Linked DNA regions of Homo sapiens. The protein of the gene in region 1 purifies or fractionates together with the protein of each later gene. This does not show direct contact. Each region holds a gene or a part of one and is shown on either strand. Other genes may lie near its edges.

The links.
Region 2: the proteins of LRRC37A2 (region 1) and NCS1 purify together in Homo sapiens (affinity purification with mass spectrometry; one large-scale study listed by BioGRID and IntAct). This does not show direct contact.

What each region holds. Positions count from the first base shown.
Region 1 is NC_000017.11:46,511,032-46,515,267, reverse strand, and holds the start of LRRC37A2 (leucine-rich repeat-containing protein 37A2 isoform 1 precursor), read right to left. Parts: upstream 2,801-4,236; 5' UTR 2,556-2,800; coding exon 1-2,555.
Region 2 is NC_000009.12:130,178,904-130,182,403, reverse strand, and holds part of NCS1 (neuronal calcium sensor 1), read right to left. Parts: intron 1-3,500. UniProt on the Homo sapiens protein: Neuronal calcium sensor, regulator of G protein-coupled receptor phosphorylation in a calcium dependent manner. Directly regulates GRK1 (RHOK), but not GRK2 to GRK5. Can substitute for calmodulin. Stimulates PI4KB kinase activity.

The DNA.
Region 1 (4,236 bases):
AGCCTCTGCTCTGGGTTGAGATCAATACATGACAACATCTCATCTCCGCAGGTACAGAGCTCACATATGTTGGTGCTTGTGGAGGCCTTGTGTTCCTCTGGTGCAGTTAAAGCCTTATTTTGGGTGTAACTTTCAGACTGCACCAGTGAATCCTGAGCAGGTTCTAGTTCAGTAGGTGGACCTGTGACTTCAGTCAGGCTTCGATGCAGAGTCTGAACCCGGTCTGGACGAGGAGCTGTAGTCTTCTCCAGGGCTGTAGAATGTCTAGTCTCTGTAGTGGGTTCTGGAATGATGGCAAGTCCCAGGTCTGGAGGCTGAGTTGAGGTCTCCTCCGTGGTTGGAGATGGTTTAACCTCTGTAGTAGGTTTTGTAGTTATGGTAAGCTCCAGGTCCAGAGGTTGAACGGTGGCTTGAGTCAGGTGTGAATGCTGAGCCTGACCCTTGTCTGAAGGTGGAAGTGTCACCTCAGGGTGTCCTGGAGGAGGAGCTGTAGTCATCAGGGCTGTAGAAGGTTCAACCTCTGTCATGGATTTTGGAGTGATGGTAAACCCCAGGTCCAAAGGTTGAACTGTGGCTCGAGTCAGGTGTGAATGCTGAGTCTGAACCTGGTCTGGATGTGGAAGTGTCACCTCAGGATGCTTTGGAGAAACTATAGTCCTCTTCGGGGGTGTAGAATGTCCAACCTCCGTAGTAGGTTCTGGAGTGATGGTAAGTCCCAGGTCCAAAAGTTGAACTGTAACGCTGGGTGACACTGGATGCTGAGCTTGATCCTGACCTGGTGTTGGATTTGTTACCCCTTGATATACTCGAAGTTGGGGTACAACTTTCTTAGGAGGCTGAGTTGGGGTCTCCTTCATGGTTGGAGAAAGTTCAACCTCTGTCTTGGATTCTGGAGTGATGGTAAACCCCAGATCCAAAGGTTGAACTGTGGCTTGAGTCAGGTGTGAATGCTCTGGAGGTTGAGCTACAACTACATTAGGGAACTCTGGAGTCTGAGCTGGGGCCTCCTGATGGGTTAGGGAAGACTCACCCTCCTCAGCGGTCTGTGGATGCTCAGCTGCAGCCTCCTGCTGGGTTGGAGAGGGGTTCTCATTATTAATAGGTTCCGGAGATTGAAATGAAGTCTCCTGTTGAACTGCTAAAGGTCCAGCTTCTTCTGATGACTCTGGAAGCAGAGGTGGGCCCCCGTGCTGGATGGCGGGAGGTTCTACATCATTACCTGACCCTGAGAGCCGAGTTGTAGCCTCCTGGTGGACTAGAGAAGTTCCCACCTCTGCACTAGGCTCTGCTGCTATGGTGAGCTGCACGTCTGGAGGCTTCACAGAGACACTGGGTGAAGCTAAATGATGAGTTTGATGGTGACCTGGAGGTGAAACTGTGACTTCATGATGTTCTGGAGGCTGACCTGGGGTCTCCTGCTGGGTCGGAGAAGATTCGACCTCCCTAGGAGACTCAGAAGGCTGAACTGGCTGCTGCTGCTCACTGATGGAAAGTTCATGCTCCATAGGAGGAACTGGAGGCTCAATTGGGGCCTCCTGTTGGGTTGCAGAAGGTTCCACCTCCTCTGGAAACTGAATTGGGGTCTCCTGCTGGGCTTGGGAAGATTCTGTCTCATTGGTAGGCTCTGAAGTTATGGTAACCTCCACATCTGCAGGTTTAACTGTAATGTTGGGCAAGTGATAATAAGCTTGATCCTCACCTGGAGGTTGAACTGACACCTCATGATTCGGTAGAGTTAGACTCTCCATAGAGGACTCTGGAGGCAGAGCTGGGGCCTCCTGCTGCATTGAAGAAGGTTCTTCCTCAAGGAGCTGTGGAAGCTGTGCTGGGGCTTCTTGCTGGAGTGAAGAGGACTGGATGTCTTCAAGGGTCTCTGGATTTTGAGTTTCGGGCTCTAGATGGAATTGAGAAGGTCCAACTTGCTCAGAGGGCCCTGGAGGCTCATCTGACTTCACCCGGAGTTCTGGAGGCAGGCTACCGGGATACGGTGTATCTGTACTGGAATATTCATTCTGCAAAGTCTGTTTCTGACTCTGAGGTGTGGATAATTGGCGTGTAATTCCAATAATCTCAGCAAGGCTCCAACGCTGAGCTGGATCTTTCTTCAGCTTCTTGGGCGAAACAGGGAGTCTTTCCTGTGGACTCAGCTTGTCCTTTAAATCCTGCTGTGAAGCCAAGAACTGCTCTGGCTCCAGGGGCTGCTCTCCAGCTGAATCCCAGGTGTCCAGGAATGGAACCAAATTTTCAGTCGATTCCTGGGGTGGGGCTGGCATCTCTGAGGAAGCAGAGGGCCCCAGGTGATCAAAGTCCCACGGGTCTGCTGGGAGAGTAGGCGCATGGGGAGATTCCCGTGGGAAATGGGAGGAGTGGGAAGACCAGGAGTCAGGCGGCCCCAGGGGATTAGAGGTGAGCTGGAGCGGGTCCTTGACCCACTCCAGAGGCTGAGCCTCCTTAACTAGTAGCCACAATAGTTGCCACATAAGGAGGGGCCATGGGCCCCAGAAACGCAGCCGGGACATGACACACACTAGTGCCGGGCACTGAGCAGAAGACATTCTGGCAGCTCCGAGACGCTCGTGCCCCTTCTAAGCGTGAGCCCCGCCCTGTCTTTATGACACCTTTATTTATGTCACAGATCTGCTCCATGTCACCAGGGCACTCTTATGTCACAATCCCGCCCAAGCACGCCTTCCCATCCTGCCCTGCCGGAACACCCCTCTCCTCCCCTTAGTGAGGAAGGATTTGGGCCTCAGACCCTGGTGGTCCCAGGACTCCAGCGCCTGCTGTGGTGGGGTAGGGTGGGGTAGGGTGGGGTGGGGGCGCGGCAGAGCTTCCCAAGGAAGTCACCGGACCTCGCCTCAGGATATTCAGAAGTGCTAGTTCAGTTCTGGCAGCCTTCCTCCTTTAAGGTGAAATCCGAGAACACTCTTCCTTCCAGGGAGAGCAACTGACCTGCAAAATGGGCGCCAGGATGCACATTACAGTCACTTATTCCAAAGTGTTGCCATTTTCGCTAAACTGTCGCATGTTTGATAATTAATTCACCACCCTATTAGGTAGGGGCTGCCAGGGAATAAGCGAGGACTCCACATTTTCTGTAGGAGGGGTGTTGGGAGTTGGCAATTCGGTCTGGGAGAGAAGGTTTTAATCCGAGTGAAGAGCCCTTTGCACTAGCCTGGGAGGAGGCTGAACTGTCATCCTGCCTTGACTCAACACAGCCATTCCCCTAGAAGTTACAGCACTTCTAGGGTCACCTGTGTTCAGAGATCTACCCTGTGTGCACACATGGAGAAGAGGCTTAGGTTGTTAAAGTCAGCATGTTAAATCATTTCCTGAAATGCGACTGTAACTAGAACCCAGCTGACTTCCCCCACAGCCGTTCTTACCTATTTTATTACTGTCTGGCATAATTACCAGCATGTAAACTCCAAGAAGGTGCTTCATCTTATTTTAGTGCCTGGCATAGACATAGGGTGCATAGTGATGGCTTTAAAATTGAAGGGGGGCCGGGTGTGGTGGCTCACACCCATAATCCCAGAACTTTGGGAGGCCGAGGTGGGGGGATCACTGAGGTCAGAAGTTCGAGACCAGCCTAACCAACATGGTGAAACTCCGTCTCTACTAAAAATACAAAATTAGCCAGGTGTGATGGTGCATACCTGCAATCCCAGCTACTCAGGAGGCCAAAGCAGGAGAATCGCTTGAACCTGGGAGGCAGAGGTTGCAGTGAGCCGAGATCACAACATTGCACTTCAGCCTGGGCAACAAGAGAGAAACTCCATCTCAAAAAAATAAAATAAAATAAAATGGAAGAGATTCCAAGATTCACCTCATTTAGGGATGGAGCTATTGTTATAATCAGATTTCTGAAATGAGTGCTGACTTCCTCTCACATTTCACAGGAAGCTAGACTTCTTAAAGCTTGAAGTCTCCTTGGTGGGTTTTATTTAAATTGAATTAAAATAATTATTTTACAGGGAAAAATTTCAAAACACTTTGCAACTTTGGGGTAAAAGTTAAATAAAACACTGTAGCCCCAAGTTAAGTTCCCACTGAAATGATACTTTTGCTCCTTTTTTTAAAAAAAATTCCATAAATAGTAAATAATGACTGTTTTGAGATTAATTTAGAAACAATCCCTATTTAAGAGCTTTCATATGCAGTCATGCATTGCTTGCCACGTGAGGAGCTTGAGAAATGGGTCACTAGGTGATTTCACCATTGTGCTAATATCAT
Region 2 (3,500 bases), on another chromosome or scaffold:
TGCTCCAGCAGCGGCTTGGATGCTCCCAGGGACTGGGCGCTCCCTCCCCTTGGCAGGGAACTCCAAGGTTTTGAGGCTCACAGAGACGGTGGGAGGCAGGCGCCGGGTGGGAAGGGCGTGGCTCTGGCAACATAAAGATCTAAGCCTGAACCCCGACTGGCCATCGATTGGCTGGCTGGGGGGACTTGGGCGTGTCCCTGAACTTGCCTGGGCCTCCCTTTCCTCATCTGTAAAATGGGTATAAGGGTCCCTACTCCCAGGGCTTTGGGGAGAGGGCAGCACTCAGCACTCCTGGTCCCGAGTGCCCACTGGGTAAACGGTGGTCGTCATTGCTGTCATCTCCCCCCAACCACAATACTCCCCTACTGCCTTGGGGAGTGGCAGCTTATCACCTGGTTCCAGACCTGGCAGCTGAGCTCCCAGCCTTTGGCGCGGCTCCCGGCCTGTCTGTGCCTCCCTCCCCAGCGTCCCCCACCCCCAGGCACACCTACATTTACAACCTGTACAGAGCTGCCCTCACACACCACCACACGCGTGCGCACAGGAGTGCCCGGCTCACCCACTCCTGACACACGCCATGACCCCGTCACTCACGCTCGGAGCGTGCCCACGTGAATCGGGACTTGCCCACGTGCCCCGCAGCACCCGCCCTGCCTGCAACACCCACACCAGGCACCCGGGCCCGCTCACGCTCACCTGCACACCTCCATGGCGGCTCCCTGGCACCTCCACCAAGCAGGGGCCCCTCACCGCGGCCCAGGGCTTCAGTGTGCAGACTCCAGGCTGAGAGGGGACGGGGATCAGACCCCAATGGCACCACTCTCCAGCCGTGGGACCATGAGCCAGCTCTCATCCACTCTGAGCCTCCATTTCCTCATCTGTAAAAAGGGGACCCCCACAGGGCTCCTGGGTGGAATTGGTGAGGAACACACGTGAACACCAAGGACAGGCCTGGGTCACACGGAACATGCCTAATACCAGATTCTCACCGCAGTGACAGCCCCTGACCGTCCCGTGCTGCAGCTCGCAGATCCTCCACCACCACCAGGAGCAAAAGGAGGGCCGAGATGAGCCGCCAAGTTCAACGTCTGTTATTCCTAACCCCGCACACGGCTCTGTGTAGTAGAAGTCCCTTATCCCCAACCCCCAGATAAGAAAACTAAGGTATCGAGAGGCTAAGAACCATGCCTGAGGCTGAGAAGATCCAAGGGCCTGGGTCTTGAACACCACAGCCCAAGCACACTCCGTCCCTGGGGCCCTGACGTACCTTCCCCACTGGGTCTCACTATCTGGGAATTTGAACATGGTACAGAAAGGGAAACTGAGTCCCAGAGGGAACTAGTGACTCCAAAGCCACTGTCCAGGCCATGATGGTCCTGGGACTTAATCCCAGGCAGGCTGCTGTCCATCCTCTGAGCCCCTGGGCGCACAGGAGCCTAAAAGCCAGCCTGCCACAACCCTTCTCCCTCCCCAACTCACCAAGCCAGGAGCCAGACACAGAACAATCCGGCCACCAACCCAGCCGGGCCACCACAGAGGCCCTCCATGTTTGCCACTCGCTCCCAATTCAGCCAAGAGCCTGTGACAGCTCACTCTGTGATTGCCCAGGGGAGTGGCCAAGAACGGCTGTCCCTGATACAGCCGGTCCAGCAGCCTCCTTCCTGGGAGAGCATTTACTGAGCACCTACTACGTGCAGATCCCTGTGCAAACATCCCTGTCTCATGCGCAAGGGACCTCAGAGCTCAGAGACGTAAGGAGCTGGCCAGGATTGCCCAGCCAGGAAACAGCAGAACTGACCTTCAAGTCCTCAGCACCTGCCGTTCTGCCCTTGGTCAGAATATGACCCCAATCTCAAGTTACCTAGAAACGCCGCAACGTAATCTCTGACACTCTCTGCCCTGCAAAATAGATCACACACAGAATGTGAAAATTGATTCATCTTGTTATGACCATAATGATGATGTGCTTTTTAATTTATATTGGCTTTTTTTCTTACCAGAGTGCTAGAGATATCTGGGGCAAGATGAACCCCAGCAGAAGACCTCAGTGAAGAAGTCAAGACATCCCTAGGCCAGGCGTGGTGGCTCACGCCTGTAATCCCAGCACTTTGGGAGGCCAAGGTGGGTGCACCACTTGAGGCTAGGAGTTTGAGACCAACCTGGCCAAAATGGCAAGACCCCATCTCCACTAAAAATACAAAAATTAGCCAGGTGTGGTGGTGCACATTCTAATACGAGCTACTCAGGAGGCTGAGGCAGGAGAACAGCTTGAACCCGGGAGGTGGCGATTATAGTGAGCCGAGATCGCGCCACTGCACTCTAGCCTGGGTGACGGAAGTGAGATTCCATCTCGATAGATAGATAGATAGATAGATAGATAGATAGATAGATAGATAGATAGATAGATAAAAAGAAGGCAAGACATCCCTATCTGAACCCCAACAGCCAACTCACCTTGGCACAGTGGGAGGTGCCCTGACAGGAACAAAGCAGTTCCTGCCACATATTTGCTGTGTGACCTTGGGGAAGATGCTTCACCTTTCTGGCGCTTAATTTGCCTACTTGTAAAATGAGGGCATTGAACTACTTGGCCCCAAGAGTCTCCTCCAGCTGAAAGATACTAGGATTCTATTTCATAGTATTCAAAGAAATAAATGTTGACACAGTGAGCCACCTCTTTTCCTCCCCATAAAATTGGCAAGAAGTAAGGAAAACAGTAATACCCAGTGCTGGCAAGAATGCAGAGAAATAGGCACTCTCTCATCTACTTTTGCTGAAAATGTAAACTGGAACAGCCTTTCTGGAGAGCAATTCAACAATTTTTAATCAAAAGCCTTTCAAAACATCCCCAGCCTTTTAACTCCATAACCCCGTTCTGGGTTCTTATCTTCAAGAAAAGATAAGTGCAAAGATTTAGTGCAAAGACATTCATGCAAAGATGTGGTACAAAGATGTTCATCTCAGTATTTTCAATATGGGAGGAGGAAGCTAACTGTCCAATGACAGGAGATTAAATAAAATATGTTCTGTCCATATGATGCACCATGAAAAAAAATCATGCTCTAAAAGCATAGTTCATGATACGGGCAAACATTCAGAATGGTCAGGTTTTTTTAAGTCAGAAAATAAAAAGTAGATAATCCCAAATTTACAAGGTAATGAAAACTATGAGTCCAGGGACAGCGGCTCATGCCTGTAATCCCAGCACTTTGGGAGGCCAAGGTGAGTGAATCACCTGAGGTCAGGAGTTCGAGACCAGCCTGACCAATATGGTGAAACCCCGTCTCTACTAAAAATACAAAAATTAGCTGGGAGTGGTGGCGGATGCCTGTAATCCCCTACTCGGGAGGCTGAGACAGGAGATTTGCTTGAACCCGGGAGGTGGAGATTGCAGTAAGCCAAGATCGTGCCACCGTACTCCAGCCTGGGTGACAGAGTAAGACTCTGTTTCAAAAAAAAAAAGAGGAGGGAAGGGGAGGGAAGGGGAGGGAAGGGGAGGG